2 linked regions of the Homo sapiens genome follow. The protein of the gene in region 2 purifies or fractionates together with the protein of the main gene of each other region. This does not show direct contact. Each region holds a gene or a part of one and is shown on either strand. Other genes may lie near its edges.

Evidence for each region.
Region 1: the proteins of GRM1 (region 2) and ADORA1 purify together in Homo sapiens (affinity purification with western blotting, with the first as the bait; one study listed by BioGRID). This does not show direct contact.

Annotation. Positions count from the first base shown.
Region 1 is NC_000001.11:203,158,725-203,162,548, reverse strand, and holds part of ADORA1 (adenosine receptor A1), read right to left. Parts: intron 1-3,824. UniProt on the Homo sapiens protein: Receptor for adenosine. The activity of this receptor is mediated by G proteins which inhibit adenylyl cyclase.
Region 2 is NC_000006.12:146,161,396-146,165,219, forward strand, and holds part of GRM1 (metabotropic glutamate receptor 1 isoform alpha precursor), read left to right. Parts: intron 1-3,824. UniProt on the Homo sapiens protein: G-protein coupled receptor for glutamate. Ligand binding causes a conformation change that triggers signaling via guanine nucleotide-binding proteins (G proteins) and modulates the activity of down-stream effectors.

The sequences.
Region 1 (3,824 bases), on a different chromosome or scaffold from region 2:
TGACCTCTGGTGCTGCCGTCCAGCCTATGGATTGGGGGATCTAGCCTGGGACTGACATCAGGGCAGTGATGACCTATGGAGAGAGGAGAGGTAGACAGTGATAGCCCTAGACAGGAGAGAGGGAGGAGACTTCTAGCTACAGAAGTGGGTCCCTCCCCTCTTCTCTCCTCACCCCTCACCCTTCTGACCACCCAGAGCCCCCGGGGTTAAAGCTTTCCTGGGGCTCCTCCAGGACCCAGTCCCAGCAGACCCTGCAGCTTAGGGTATCAGCTCTCATCTGTTTTTCTTGCTATTTTCTCCCTGGTGGGAAAGGGCTGGACCCAAGACCTTGGCTGAGGTGGGGCAGGCTCTCACAGGAAGGGCTGCCTCCCAAGGCCAGGAGAGAAGCTCACCTATCCTTACACGTGGGAAAGGAAACAGAGGCTGCAAGTCCTGGGGCACGCATGGGGTAAGGGTGTGTGGAAGGTGCCTCTGACTCTTGGGAATGCCCCTCCCAAGTCCACAGCATCCCCGAGGGCTGTGCTGGGAGCTAAGCAGGGAGATGCTGCTCTCAGGAGTGTGCAGCTCAGGCAGGCACAAATGGGAGAGCAACAGAACAGAGACGGGAGAACACCAAGAGGGGCCCCGTCCACAGGCCAGCAGGGCAGACAGTACCTTAAAGATAGCCCTGAGGGGGCCGGGCGCGGTGGCTTACGCCTGTAATCCTGGCACTTTGGCAGGCCGAGGCGGGTGGATCACCTGAGGTCGGGAGTTCAAGACCAGCCTGGCCAACATGGTGAAACCCCATCTCTACTAAAAAAAAATACAAAATTAGTCAGGCGTGGTGGTGCATGCTTGTAATCCCAGCTACTTGGGAGGCTGAGGTAGGAGAATTGCTTGAACCCAGGAGGCGGAGGTTGTGGTGAGCCAAGATCGCGCCATTGCACACCAGCCTAGGCAACAAGAGCGAAAATCTGTCTCAAAAAAAAAAAAAAAATAGCCCTGAGGGAACCAGGGAGAGCCCCACCTCCAGAATCTCCTTCAAAGTGCATAAAATCCCACAAGGAATGAGACGTTCCTTTGGGTTAAGAGTTGCCTTCTCTGTGGGCTATTTATTTATTTAGTTTATTGAGACAGGGGCCCCCCTGTGTTGTCCAGGCTGGTCTCGAGCACCTGTGCTCAAGCAATTCTCCCACTTCGACCTCCTGAAGTTCTGGAATTACAGGTATGAGCCACCACGCCCACCTGTGTGTTATTTTTAAAAGCTGAAATAACATGAACTCCATAGTATGAATTAGTTTATTAGTCGGAACTTCTCATTGATGATGATAACATGAAAAGACTGAGTCCCCGGAGCAATGGGCTACAGAGACCCTGAGAGGGAAAGGGATCACTTGAGGAGAGAAATGGAAGAGGGTTCCCATTGAACCTCTCAGTGTTGGCAAGAGCCGGTGGCTGAACAGAAAAGGATTTCATATCATAGCTGCTGCAAGAGTGTCAGTATGGTTTAGAGGTGGAAATGAGGGAATGAAGTCTGCAAATCCTGTGTCCAAATAGGGCAGGGCAGAGAAAGCCATTGGTTCTTCCCTGGACACCCTGGCAGGGCTGCCATAGGAGGGGTGGGAGATTCTGGGGGCTAAGTGAGGAAGGAGCTTGAAAATAATAGTTATCTGATCAATAATAACAACAATAAAAATGCTGGTAAGCGCTAACATTTATTTCTATGTGCTGGGCACTGACTATTTATTTATTTATTTAAGAGATAGGCTCTCACTCTGTCTCCTAGGCTGGAGTGCAGTGGCACAATCACAGTTAACTGTGACCTCGAACTCCTGGGCTCAAGAGATCCTTCCACCTCAGCCTCCTGAGTAGCTGGGACAAGTGTGTGCCACCATGCCCAGCTATTTTTAAGTGTTTTTGTAGAGATGGGGGTCTCACTATGTTGACCAGGCTGATCTCAAACTCCAGGGCTCAAGTGATCCTCCTGCTTTGGCCTCCCAAAGTGCTGGGATTACAGGCGTGCACCACTGCGCCCAGCCCTAGGCACTGACTTTATAGACATGGTTTTATTGATACTTCAGCGCAACCCTATCACTTAGATACTACAGGTTGAGCATCCCTAATGTGAAAATCCAAAAGCCCAAATGCTCCAAAATTCAACACTACTTGAATGCCAACAAGACGCTCAAAGAAAAATGTTCATTTGAGCATTTCAGATTTCCAGATTAGGGATGCTCAACCAGCGGGTATAATGCAAATATTCCAAAATCTGAAAAAATCCAAAATTGGAAACACTTCTGGTCCCACACATTTTGGATAAGGGATACTCAACCTGTGTCATTATTCTCAATTCCTAATTGCAGTAACTGAGACTTGGAGAGATTAGAAAACATGTCCAAGGCCACTCTGCCAGGAAAAAGCAGGAAAAGAATTTCTAAGACTCCAGTATGTCCAAGTGCAAAGCCCATATTGGACCCAGCTCTGCCACTCTGGGAGATGGAGAACACGTGAGGATTGGGGGATGGAAGCTTGGAGCAGGAGAAAGGAGCCATGGCTAGGGCCCAGAAGGCAAGCCTCTCCTGCTCCAGGCAAATCTCCCTGGACTAAGTAGTTGTGAGGATGCCATTGTGCTTTGCCTGGGAGCCTCACTCCTCCTGCAAAGTCTGAGCTCTTTCTGAGCCATCAGAATGACCTGTTCACATGCATGTGCTGCCTAGGTATTTAGTTGCTGTCTTGTTCTTGCTGGGGGCAATCAGGCAGTTGAGACTCACCCTTTCATTTATTAAAGGGGTATTCATTGAGCACCTATCAGGTGCCAGGTTCTAGGTGTTAGGGTTCAGGAATATAGAAGAGAACAGACTCATGAAAATATCATTCTGCAGACAGAGAAACAGGCAATAGATATGCAAACAAATAAACCAGATCATTTTAGAGAGTGAAAAGACCTACCAAGCGAAATAAGAGGATACCCCAGGAGAGAGTGAGTGGGCAGGGCAGCCTCTCTGAGGATGAGAAAATGAGCCGAGAGCCAAAGGACCACCAACGAGCCAGCCAGGGAAAGATCTGGGACAGAGCCTTCTAGGCAGAAGGCACCATCGGGGAGAGGTGCTGAGGCAAGAGTGGCAAGAGAGGGCTAGTGTGAAGGAGCCTCAGGGGTGAAGGCCCGAGAGAGGCCGGCTCAGTCAGAGAAGAGACCTAGGGCTGAGAGGGCTGCAGCAAGTGTTCTGGGGTTTATCCTAAGTACGAGGGGAAGTCATTTTAAGCAAAGGAATAATATAATCGAATTGCTGTTTTTAAAAGATAGCTCAGGCTGCTGTGTGGAGAATGTGTTGCAGCAGGGAATGATGGAAGGCAAGAAAACCAGCAGGAGGCTATTTTAGCCATCCAGGCAGATGAGGGTGGGATGCTGTAGCTGGCGGCATGGGAATTGAGGAGAAGCATATGGCTTTGAGATGTATTTAGGAACAGGGCCAAAAGGACCTGCTGCTGAGTTTGGATGTTGCTATGGTTTGAATGTGTCCCCCAAAGCTCATGTGTTGGAAACTTAATCCCCAATGCAACAATGTTGAAAGGTGGGACTTTAAGAGGTAATTAGATCCTGAGAGCTCTGCCCTCTTGAATGGATTAATGCCATTAATTGCAGAAGTGGCTTCATTATCACAGGAGTGGAGTCTTTATAAAAGATGAGTTTGGCCACCTTCTTTTCTCTCTCTAGGGAGTGTGCTCTTTGTCCTTCCACCCTTCAGCCATAGGATGAGCCAGAAAAAAAGGCCCTTGTCAGATGCAGACCCTCAATCTTGGACTTCTCAGCTTCCAGAAATGTGAGCTGAGTAAACTTCTTTTCT
Region 2 (3,824 bases):
TGGCAACTTAAGTCTTTCTAGCTCTTTTATTTTACCTCCTAATAATGCAATTGAACTCATACAAGTATTTCTGAGAGTCGCACATGTGTTTGTTTATGTGCTTGTCTATGAACAGGTCAGCTACATGTGATGTCTACCTCTTTTATTCCTCTTACCTGCCCCACCTCTACTGGATTCCACATATCCGAGGGAGCTATTGTCTCAATGAACACCTGAGCTTCTGAGGACACTGCTTTCTGTGCTAATAGTTACGGTCACTGATGCATGGAATCATTGAGATGACAAAGCTATACCATACTCTTTGCCAAGTGAAGGAAAGTGTCTCTCTGTTCTTCTGGGCTACTTTCCACGAGTGTCTATCAAAATGGTGTTGGCGTTTAATCTCGAATCTTAGAGAATTTTAATGAAAGCAGCCTTTAAAATTTTTTGGCTCACAATTTTCTCTCCCTTCCATGACATTCAGATATGAGTTCATAAGGAGCTGAGCTGGGGACAGAGCCAAGTAGTGAGACGATGCCATCCTTAGAAGTAGCCTTCCCTTCAGGTGGCTGATTCCCTCTCTTTATCGGGGATGGATTCTATCCTAAATGCTGCTCTGTCACTCATGTCAATGGACATGTGGGCTTGGTTCCCTCATGTCAGCAGACATGTCCAGAATAGCTACAGTTTAACCTCAAGCTACAACTTCTAGCTACATTAGTAATGCTGTCAAATATATCTCCCTCCCTTTCTAAGGGATTTTATCTACCAAATGTTGAAGTTTTTTGAGATCAGAAGCCATTGTTTGGTTTCTTTCGTAACACACGGTATGATTCTGGCTACTGCCAGAGTCACAAGAAGGGCATTGTGTAGGTGGTCATGAACTTCTTTTCATATAGTAAATCATGGTGTAGATAGCAGCAGGAGAGATTTGGTTAAAAAAAAATTAGGACTTTTTAAATGAAGACCTACATGCCCTCGTCTCCATGTCTGTTACTTTCTCTCACACTTCACATGCAATGTGTCTGGAACTCGTCTTGACACTACCATCAAAACATATTCAGATGTGGACAACTTGTCACCACTTCCTCTGCTATCATCCTGGTCCAAGCCACGATCATTTTCCCTTGGCTTATTGTGATAACCTCAGAATCGGACCTCTTGGCCATCTAGTCTTAACATAGAAGGCAAAGTGATCTTCTAAGAAATTAAGTCAAGTAGTGTCACTCATCACCTCACATGCCTAATGCCTTAAAATGACCCCCTATTTATTTCATAACAAAGTCATTACAAAGGCCTTCAAAGCTCCATATTTGACCACTTGGAATGAGCTGCTGAGAATGGAATAATGAACTATACTGATAGAAAAATGGACTTTTAAAAAAGGAAGTTCTCATAGAGAATAAAAATATTATATATTGAAAAAATGTGGTGGTAATGAAAAAACAAAACAAAACAAAACAAAACGTGGACTAAGAGTTCTAGCTATGCCATGAAGCAATTATATGATCTTATTTACTTAGTAGCTTTTTGTCTTGGAGCCTATTTTTTTCTATTAAAATAAAATATTTGGCTCCACATCATCTTTAAACATTTTTCCAGTCCTAGAATTTATAATATATTAAGACAATATGACTAATCTAAGATCAGTAGGGATGTATTTATAGACTTATCTAATATTATTCATTAATTTGGGCTGATCAATTTCTTCACCAGCCACTTCGTTAAAACCAGAATTCATAGAATAAGCTGGTCAGTATTAGGATAAATCTGTTGTTATGAAATATAGCCAGCAGACCCAGGGGAGAATCAAACCTTTGACTTTGAATAAATTGGCATAGTATTCTTACCAAGCAAATTAACTAATCACAATCAAGTTAATCATTGTGCAAAAGAATCATTTCTTCTTGTCTCTATGAAAGCTTTATTTAAGATGCTTCTCAGAATTATGCTCACTATAATAATAATTGTAATAATGATTGTGATGCTGATGATGTACCTGCGTCTGATAATACCTGTTTAGGACTTACTATATATAAGCACTGTTCTAAGAACTTTGCACATAACTCATTTAATTGTCACAACAATGTGATAAGATAGGTACTAATATTATTCCCCTTTCAATGTACGGAGTACAGTAACTTGTCAAAAAGTGCTGCAGTGCCAGTGCTGGGATTTGAAGTTAGGGACTGCAACATCAGAATCTGTGCTGTTAATTAGTAAGTTTGTGGGGTAATGGAAAAACAAAACAAAACATGAGATAAGAGTTCTAGATTTACCATGATTGTTTTGTTTAAGAGATATTGGCATTAATCTTAGTTTCCTTTTAACTTGCTCTCTCTTTCAGAGATTTATTTCACGGTTTAGAGTCACCTTCTTTGGGAAAATCAGCTAAAGTATCTCCCATGAGAAAATTATTTTACATTTCTAGTTATTCTTTATTTCTTTGCATTCTTTTATTTCATGCTTAGTTTTAAATATTTCCTATGATAATTCATTAACGGATAACTCATTTAACCTCTTTTCCAGCTCATTTCTTTATCTTAACATGGGACTTTACAATGTCATTCTCTTTGCACACCAGGCTTTATCTATAGAACTATATTTATGTAGAAGTCAACTTGGAATGAGTGCTATTTCTCTAAAATTCTAAGTTATAATTATTAAAATTCTAATAGTTAACTGATGGATCTGTTCTAATTCTTAAATTTTTTTTTATCTGAAGAAAGTAAAACTGAGAATAATTTATGTGTATGAGCACAAAAAATAGCTACCATTTATTGAGGGTTTGGTAGGTACTAGGCTATTAATATATGTTGTCTCTAGTTCCAAAAACAGCCCTGAAAGGTTGACTTGAAAAGCAGAGAAGTTCAATAATTACTCCAAATTCCTAAGTTTAATAAGTGGTGGAGTCAATATTCAAACTTACTACTGAACCATATTATCATATACATATATAGGTATTGAATTGTAACCTCCTCAACTGTAGGAACCAAGTTTTATACAGTTGTTTATTTTCCTTCATGCCTAGCACAGTGTTTTGGTATGATAACTTTTTAATAACTACATCAAAAAGCTTGATAGCTAGTAGAGAGAGCATGTAGCCTCATTATGTGACCCCTGATTTCCCTTTGATAGTCTAGAATCAGTAAATTTTACCTAGTTTGGTAAGGGTTGATGCTCTTCAATCAGCCTGTATCTGAACAATTCATCTGTAAAATTGGAACAACAACCCATTTAGGTTGTCTTATTTGTCTAATCACAAAATGCCTGCTTGCCTGGTGAGTCATCACTGGGTCTCACTAGTAGGTCCCTTGGCGGTACCTTAGCTCCACTAAAGACACACTATTCTTTCAGGGTGAGTGAGAGCCTCCTGACTTTAGTCCTTTGCCTAGTGTTGGCATTATCCTGAGCCTCCACCCTGGTTTCCTCATCTTGGAAAGCCTTTACTGTAAGTTCACATTCTGCCTTGTTAGGAGTCTTTGACTAGACATACTAGGTGTACCATATTTATTTATATATTTGCTAGCCCTTTTTACTGGATTCTGACTACATCTTTTTTTTTTTACAGTTCTTGCATTTCAATTGCTTGTCCCTTACTACTGTGTGCTGTTTTATCTATTGCTTCTCGCAACTCTGTGATCTTCTCACTCATTAGGCCAACTTTCTATCACTCCTCACTGCAGAGAAACACCACCCCCAGCCCTTTAGCTAAAACTTGATCCAAGAAAATTTTATTCTCCTGCTTTTTTAGTTGAAACACAACAAACACATCAAACACACGTGTAAAAAATGGTTGAAATGGAGCAATTGCTTTATTTGGAAAGAAGACTACAGTTTCATTT